Linked DNA regions of Homo sapiens. The protein of the gene in region 1 purifies or fractionates together with the protein of each later gene. This does not show direct contact. Each region holds a gene or a part of one and is shown on either strand. Other genes may lie near its edges. The genes, in order: ABCC5 and SAAL1.

The links.
Region 2: the proteins of ABCC5 (region 1) and SAAL1 purify together in Homo sapiens (co-immunoprecipitation; one large-scale study listed by IntAct). This does not show direct contact.

The regions. Positions count from the first base shown.
Region 1 is NC_000003.12:184,014,806-184,019,215, forward strand, and holds the start of ABCC5 (ATP-binding cassette sub-family C member 5), read right to left. Parts: upstream 3,080-4,410; 5' UTR 3,025-3,079; exon of another isoform or gene 2,245-3,024; intron 2,160-2,244; exon of another isoform or gene 754-2,159; intron 1-753. UniProt on the Homo sapiens protein: ATP-dependent transporter of the ATP-binding cassette (ABC) family that actively extrudes physiological compounds, and xenobiotics from cells.
Region 2 is NC_000011.10:18,081,798-18,085,613, forward strand, and holds part of SAAL1 (protein SAAL1), read right to left. Parts: intron 1,935-3,816; coding exon 1,738-1,934; intron 1-1,737. UniProt on the Homo sapiens protein: Plays a role in promoting the proliferation of synovial fibroblasts in response to pro-inflammatory stimuli.

The DNA.
Region 1 (4,410 bases):
TCAGTTTGTCCCAAGTATTAAAAACTCCACAATTTTAAAGTGGACATCATTTCTTCTACTAAATTTTACTAAATAAAAACTTACCAAACACTTATTCTACCAATGATATATTCCATCTCTGCCTTTTTATAATTAACTAATGGGTTAGCTGGTGTTATTTTAAAGCTCCATGAAGTTATCCAGTTAAAACAATGTTATAACTTAACTTCAAACACAAATTCCCTGGGTACTGAAAATGTTCTAAAACTAGATAGTGGTAATGGTTGCACAATGCAGTGAATACATTGAAAAAAAACACACTGAATTTATACTTTAAAAGAGTGAATTTCATGTCATATAAATCCTATGGCAACAAAGCTGTTAGTAAAAAACAATAACAAAAACAAATTCTCCACCCTGTATTACTAAGTCTTACCTAGTTTTTACCTGAAACTCTATTCTAAACCACTGCTTGCCTGGCTAAGTCTAATCAATATGCTGTATCAACTCAGGTCACTTAAAAACAAAAAACACATACATACTTCTCCAAAATGTTTCCCCCCTCTAAGAAGGGTCACAGCCTCCCAGAGACAAGCTGAGAAAACACCTTTCATACTAGCCTCCAACGGAAATTAAAGACGTGTAGCCGTGTCGCCTTCTGGATTCCATAAATCCCTGGCTATCGCTGTGACTTAAAACTACTACTTCTGCAGCACAAAATTCTAACCATTATAATGCAATTTTTAAAGTGTCAGATAAAAAGAGAACACTTACTAATCCTCTGAATAAAAAGGACTAAATCTCCTATGCAAAGACAGGTTTCCAGTCCAAAGAAAGCTTGATTTCTTGCCTTTCAGAATTCTGGTTCAAGTACCCTAAGTTGATATAGCTGTTACTTATCTTTAAAAAAAAAAAAAAAGTCACCTTGTCCAATGACAAACTACACCATAAAGAACAGCGGCTCACCAAGCCAGAGTGCAGCAATCACGTCATTGAGACCTCATTAAGGCTAAACTATAAACAGACCTGGCATCTGCCAGTGTCCCCAGTGTTGAGCTGTAGCTGTAGATCAGAGTAACCTTCTTACGGGAATCACGAAATTCTAACCTTCCCCTTCAAGGGTTCCCTAGCTTAGCTGATTATCTGGAAGAGGAAAAGATTAGTACTACCTTTTTAAAAGGTGGGGGTTGGGGCGGTGAGCAGTTTGAAACAGAGGAGGTCACTGGAACTCATCCACAATATGAAATGCCACATCAAGAAGAACACGAACATAATCTTAATTATCTAAGCACCCATGATAACCAAAGATTCTTTCAACCACTTTTATTTCAAAGGATGAAGTAGAATCAGTGGAGCACAGGAGCAGAGAGAGGCAGGGACAAAACGACTTCCCTGTTATGACACAAATAATGACTGTTTTGTGCCTACAGTGACTGCTGTGGTAGACACTGCTAAACTATCCTAAGGGACTAAGTTATTCTATGTATGAAGGGTGTGGGGAACAGTGTTCCATTATCTCTAACACACTCATCTCTACTTTCCTGGAAAAAGAGGCACAATCAGGAGAGCAGGCAGGCCCAAAGTAGGCACAAAGTTACTGTCTGTGGCCTTGAACATAAGGACACCATCGTCTGTGTATCTGGAACATAAAAGAGGGCACCCCACGTGGAGGCCGGCGAAGAGCTGGGAATCCTGACAGGTTTGGAAAGAAACAAAGCCCCAGTCTGAAGCAAGCAAGCAAGCAAGGATGGATCCCCAGGCCAGCCATTTTACTGATACTATTTATATTTCCCTATCTTCTCGTGTCCTCCTTTAAAGTTGTTGGAATATCTTTTTTAAATGCTCACTTGCCTCAGCTATCAAGAGAGGAAGAAAGAGAAGGGATTTTTGTTTGTAAAAAACAAACCTGTTGTCCAGACATGTACAAGGGTAGAAGCAGAATAATCAACGTGGGAGAACCCCAAAGAAGTGCCCAATAGGGTTGAGGCCACTTAGTCAGCTGCCCTTTTTTACCAAGATTCTCTTTCCACTGATAAAAGTGTAGACACTCTCCCTGCACAATGATACTGATTCAACTGCATGGCAGGAGGAGAGTTGCACGGGATTACCAGACTGGTGTGTGCAAGCTGCAGTCATCCCAACACTCATGAGTAGGTTTCCATCACCTCCAGGCCCTCAAGCTGCACGAGGAAGACACCACGCTAAAGGGATACGTATTTACCACACCCACTGTAATCCACTTGTTGCGTCTCCAAGCAGCCTCACCTTTCATACACGCTGCGGACCACAGTAAAACCTAGCCATCTCCTCCTCCAAGACCTCCTGAAACTTTCCCCGTCGTTCCTGTGCCCACCTGCCTCCAGCCTCTCCGTCTGTGCAGAAACCAAATGGCCCCTGTGTGATAAACACAAAGCCACCCGCGGCTCTGTGTGGCAGAAGCGAAAAGAGCACTGGATGACCGTGGAGAGATCTGGGCTGCGTTCCCGGCACAGCCACGGCTTTGCTGCGCGTGCTTATGTCACGTACCTCCATTTACCCGCTTGCAAAAACGAAGGGGATGACTTACTTCGAAGGTCGCTGGCGGCTCCGCTGCGGGTTGAGCAGGGTGCCCCGAGCCACCCGCTGCACAGCCTCCCAGGTGGGCGTTTCTCTCAGACCCGCTTCGCCTGGGATGCCCGGGCCCTAGGGCGTTCCCACAGCCCGCTCCGGCCTGCCCAGGCGAGCGCGACCCACACCCACGGCCCGCGGGCGCAGCGCCCCCTGGCGGCCGCGGCCAGGGACGTAGCCCGCGTCCCTGCCCGCTCATCCCGATCCTACCTGCCTGTCTTCCAGCACACGACCCCGTCACCAGACCCCGGGCTCACAGGCCTAGGAGGCGGCGGCAGGAGACCAGGGGGAGGCCATACGCCGTTCCCCAAGTCTCCAGTGTCCCCCGAACTGCTCGCAGCCCTGGCCACATCCCGCCACGCCCCGAGGAAATGCAAAGGGGTGATCCCCGTGACAACCGAGCTGGAGGGCAGGGGTGCGGCAGCAGCCATCACCTACCTGCGCCCCTGCTCCAGGACAACCGCGCCAGCCGCTCAACCACGCTCCCGAGCATGAGCCCTGCAGCAAAACAAGCCTTTATAGCGGCATCGGCCGCCACACCGCGCAAGCGCGCTGCACAAAGCATTCCCAAGGCTGAAGGGAACTGTAGTCCTCCTTCCGAGTGCCCAGGGCTGCGGACGCGGCGAAGGACTACATTTCCCAGAAGCGCCGGTGACATCCCGGGGGCGGTGCGGGCTGCCCCTCTTCCCACCGAGCTCCCGGCTCTGTTCCATCCTTCCCCGTGCCTCTGCGAGACTGTCTGGAATCTTCTCAGGGGTCGTGTTCCCTGGGGGAGGCAGCCGGGAGGCTTAACCGTGGCCCTGTGTTCGCACACAGTGCTGTTCGTAGGCAGAGCAGTCCCACCCTGCGTGGCCGTGTAGCTGCCAGAAAAGATCGTGAAGGTCATCGTAGCCCGCGTCTAACCCGTTGAGAGTCGTCAGGCCGGCCAGCCCCAGTTCTTATCTGTTGTGGCAGATACGATTGCTTGCTCATGGTTCGACCCTGCAGTCTGCGCAGATACCGCCTTTCTCACTTTAACACCAACTGCCCATCAATGTCTCGCTGCCTGGTCTCTAGATAATAAAATGCCAGGATCACAGTCTTAGAAGTGGCAAGAGCCTTAGAAATGTTATGCTAACTCATCTTCTTCTTTTTATAAATGAAACTGAAGCTCCCAGAAAGATTGATCCCTTTATTTCTCTGTTTCATCGGTACCTTCAGCATCATTAAATAAAAGCCACTGTTGAGTTCTTCCCTACCTTGTATCCGATGCTTTACATACCATTCTTGTTTCCTTTAATCTCCATTACAGCCCTATGAGTAGGTATTATGAGTTTTTTTTTTTTTTTAAGGAGTCTGGCTCTGTTGCCCAGGCTGGAGTGCAATGGCGCGATCTCGGCTCACTGCAGCGTCCGCCTTCCGGGTTCAAGCAGTTCTCCTTGCCTCAGCCTCCCGAGTAGCTGGGATTACAGGCGTCCGCCACCACGCCCGGCTAATTTTCGTATTTTTTAAGTAGAGACAGGGTTTCGCCATATTGGCCAGGCTGGTCTCGAACTCCCGACCTCAGGTAATCCGCCCGCCTCGGCTTCCCAAAGTGCTGGGATTACAGGCGCGAGCCACCTCACCCCGCCGTATTTTTTTTTAATTCAAAGATTAAAAAAGAAGAAGAAGAAGAGGAAGAGGAAGAAGGAGAAGGTAAAGTGACTTGTCCATCTTTATAACAGCTAGCTAGTTAGCTAGTGTGAAGACACTACTGTATCGTAAAGCAGCATATTCTTGCGCACGGATTGATAGACCAATGCAATAGAATAAAGAGCCCCCAAACAGACTGGTGCATCCATGTAA
Region 2 (3,816 bases), on another chromosome or scaffold:
CTATTCTACCAAATCTCTCTTACCCCCATCCCTCCTCTCCATTCAAACTTCCATTGTTTAGGCTGCCATCATTTTTCAGATTATTCTTGAAGATTACCAACCACAAGAGCCTGTTAGTTGATCTCCTGCCCTCCAGCCTCAACTCTCTCTACTCCTTCCTCTCTATTGCTTTTGGAGTAATCTTTCTAAACTGATCGTATCACTTGGTGCTTAAAAGTAAAAAATCTTTAGTAGTTCCTCAGCTTTTTCAAGATGAAGTCTAAATCCCCTAAATATGACATAAGAATTTGCATGACATAGCACTCGTGTATTCTCAGCCCACCTTTCTTTGATGTTCCCACCACTTAAAAGTTAAGAAATATCGATGTCCCTTGCTCCAAAAAACAGAAACAACAGCAAAGAATGGGAAAAAAATACATGCGATAAATATGGAAAAGATACATTATTACCCAAGAAATTCATACAAATAATCAAAATGGATAAATTATTAAAAGGTAGGAAACAAATTAACATACGACATCCAAATATTTCAATCTCATTAATTTAAAAATGCAAATCAAAGTAAGACACAATTTATTACCTGAACTTTGACATAAAAATTATAATACCCAATAATAAGCGTCAAGTAAAACCAACATTTTCACATATAAATAGCATTTTGACAAAATATGGCCATCATGACTTAGCCATCTTCACATTTATAATGTTGAATCCAGTAATTTAAATTATATAAAACCTGCTAAGGTAATAACCCCAAATCTGGAAAATACAAATATGGAAAAGGGAAGCAAGACAACTAATAAAAAAAAAATCACCAGAATAAGAGAAACTTTTTGTTTCATTTTGTTTTTTGAGATAGGGTCTCACTCTGTCGCTCAGGTTGGAGTGTAGTGGCACAGTCTGGGCTCACTGCAGCCTCGACCTCCTGGGCTCAAGCAATCCTTCCATCTTTGCCTCCCAAGTAGCTAGGATCACAGGCGTGTGCCACCATGCCCAGCTAATTTTTGTATTTTTTGTAGAGATGAGGTTTTGCCATGTTGCCCAAACTGGTCTCAAACTCCTGGGCTCAAGTGATCCACCTGCCTCAGCCTCCCAAGTGCTGGGATTATAGGCGCCTGGCCAAGAGAAACTTCTTAAGGAATACTCTTTAAAAAATTAAGTGGGTATGAATAAATATATTCTTCACAGCTATATTTATAACATTTTATATTCATAATACAATATATTCATAACATATTCATAATACATTTCTTTCCAAATATATGGATAGAAAAAACATGGTCAAAAGAAGAATATTAATAACCATTGAACATATTCAGGGAGAATGTTCCTTAAAAGAAGTTTGCAGTAAATTTTGAAAACTGATTATTTGGTAAATTAGGTTTAAACTGGCTCTCAGTAAAAAAGTCTTTCATCTAGAATCAAGAAAAATGTTTATAATACAGTGTTAAGGGAAAACAGTAGTCTATAAAAATTGCATATGCTGGGTTAAAGTATATGAAAAATGCATTTATAAAAACACATGCATGCAAACATAGGCATATGTCTGTCACACGTAAATATACCAAACCACATCAGCTAGTTGTTTTTAAGATTATAAACTCATGGTGATATTAAGATTTTACTTTATTTTCCCAAATTATATATTACTTTCATATTTAAAAAAAAATAAAGTTTGAAGCGTTAAGCAACCCACACTTTCTTTTGCTTATGACATCATCAATACTTCTTTCCTACCTTTGTTAATGCCTGAAAAATATTAGAAAGAAATTCACATAAAATATCCTTTAAGATTTTCAAGTGGAAATCATCTTGGGTTAAATCAGTCCTTTTAGTTTCCTCTGTGTTAGACTCTGCCGAGTTCTCTGGTTTTTTCTGACACTGTTCCATATTTTGTAAGACCCGAATGAGGCTGTCAATTAGAGGAAGATCTACTGTATAAACAAATCAAGAAGCATGGAATTGGCCAGTTAAGTTTGGTTTTTCATTCATATGTATTGAATTAGTGCTAGACATTATTATTTTGGGTATTACAGATACACTGGTAACATCAGCAAGATGTCAGCCCATAAGAGGCTTACATTTTTATACTTTCAAATAAGTAAATAAAACAGACTATTTCAGGTTTTGGTTAAGTTCTATGAAGGAAATAAAAGAGGAATATAATATAGCAGCCTAGCAGGGCTAGCTCTCTGACAAGGTAACATTGAGTTGAGAACTAAAGCAATGAAGCATCAGCAATTAAAATACCCTAGGAGGTCAGGGGTGGTAGCTCACGCTTGTAATCTGAGCAGTTTGAGAGGCCAAGATGGGCGGGTAGCTTGAGCCCAGGAGTTCGAGACCAGCCTGAGCAATATGGTGAAACCGTGTCTTTACAAAAAGTACAAAAAAATTAGCTCACAGGATTTTTCTACCACTACCACTGTTACCATCTTGGTCCAAGTTATAACATTTCTTGCTATGAGTCAATTATGAAGAATCTCTAAAAGCCTCCTAACTCATGTCCCTTTTGTACCCATGACTCCCCATATTTCTCATCAAAACAGCAGCCTATTAAAGCCAGCTCATGCGTAGGCAACTTCTGCTTAAAACCCACCATGGTTCCCCACCTCATTCAGAGGAAAAGGCAACATCAGGCCCTCCATACTCTACCTCTCTGGCTCCATGTGCTACTTTGCTAAATCCACCCCAGCCATATGGGATCTCACTGTTCCTCCTCAAAGACACCAGGCATACTTCTGGTTGAAGGCTTTTACACTTTCCATTCCCTCTGTCTGGAATGTTCTTCTCCCCAAGTATGCACATGACTCCCTCCATTCTGTCCCTAAGGACTGTACTCAATGCCACCTTCTCAATGAGGTAACGTATCTACAAATGAAGATCTTAAAAATATTCAACATTCCTTTTTTATTAAAAACTCTTAATAAAATAGAAACAGATTAATATTTCCTTAAATGGTAAGACATATATCTGTTTTTGGAGGGGGGGTGCGGAGTATTGCTCTGCTGCCCAGGCTGGAGTACAATGGCGTGATTTCAGCTCACTGCAGCCTCTGCCTCCCAGGTTCGAGCAACTCTCCTGCCTCAGCCTTCTGAGTAACTGAGATTACAGGCATGCGTCACCAAGCCTGGCTAATTTTTGTATTTTTAGCAGAGACAGGGTTTCACCATGTTAGCCAGACTGACTTTGAACTCCTGACCTCAGGTAATCTGCCCGCCTCAGCCTCCCAAAGTGCTGGGATTATAGGTGTGAGCCACAGCACCTGGCTGTAAAACATATATCTTATACCCAATAATGCTTAACAATGGAACTCTAGGATTATTCCTACTAAAATCAGGAAGAAGGTAAGGATGTTTTCTACCATCACTATTATTTTACACCAGAGACTCTAGGCAACCCAGAAAGACAAGAAGAATAAACCAGAGATAGACAAGTGATAAAATATATCTAACTTAAGCCAAAGCACTATCAGATAAAGCCCAAAGATTATTACTGGAACGACTACTAAAAATATTAAGAATTTGGTAAGGTTACAGGATACAAAGTTAATATACCAAAATCAATAGCCTTCATATATTCCAACAATAATAATCAGTGGAAGAAAATATGTCACAGACAATAGTAAACCCAAAAGATACAATTATCTAGGAATGAAACTAATAAGAAATATCCAAGATCCATATGAAGAAACCATTACTGAGGGACACAAAAAAGACCTGAACAAATAAAAGGGCATAACATATCCTATCAAGTTAACACGATGTCAACAAAAATGTCAGAAATTTTTTGTTTTTGGAACTCAAAGTTAGTGATAAA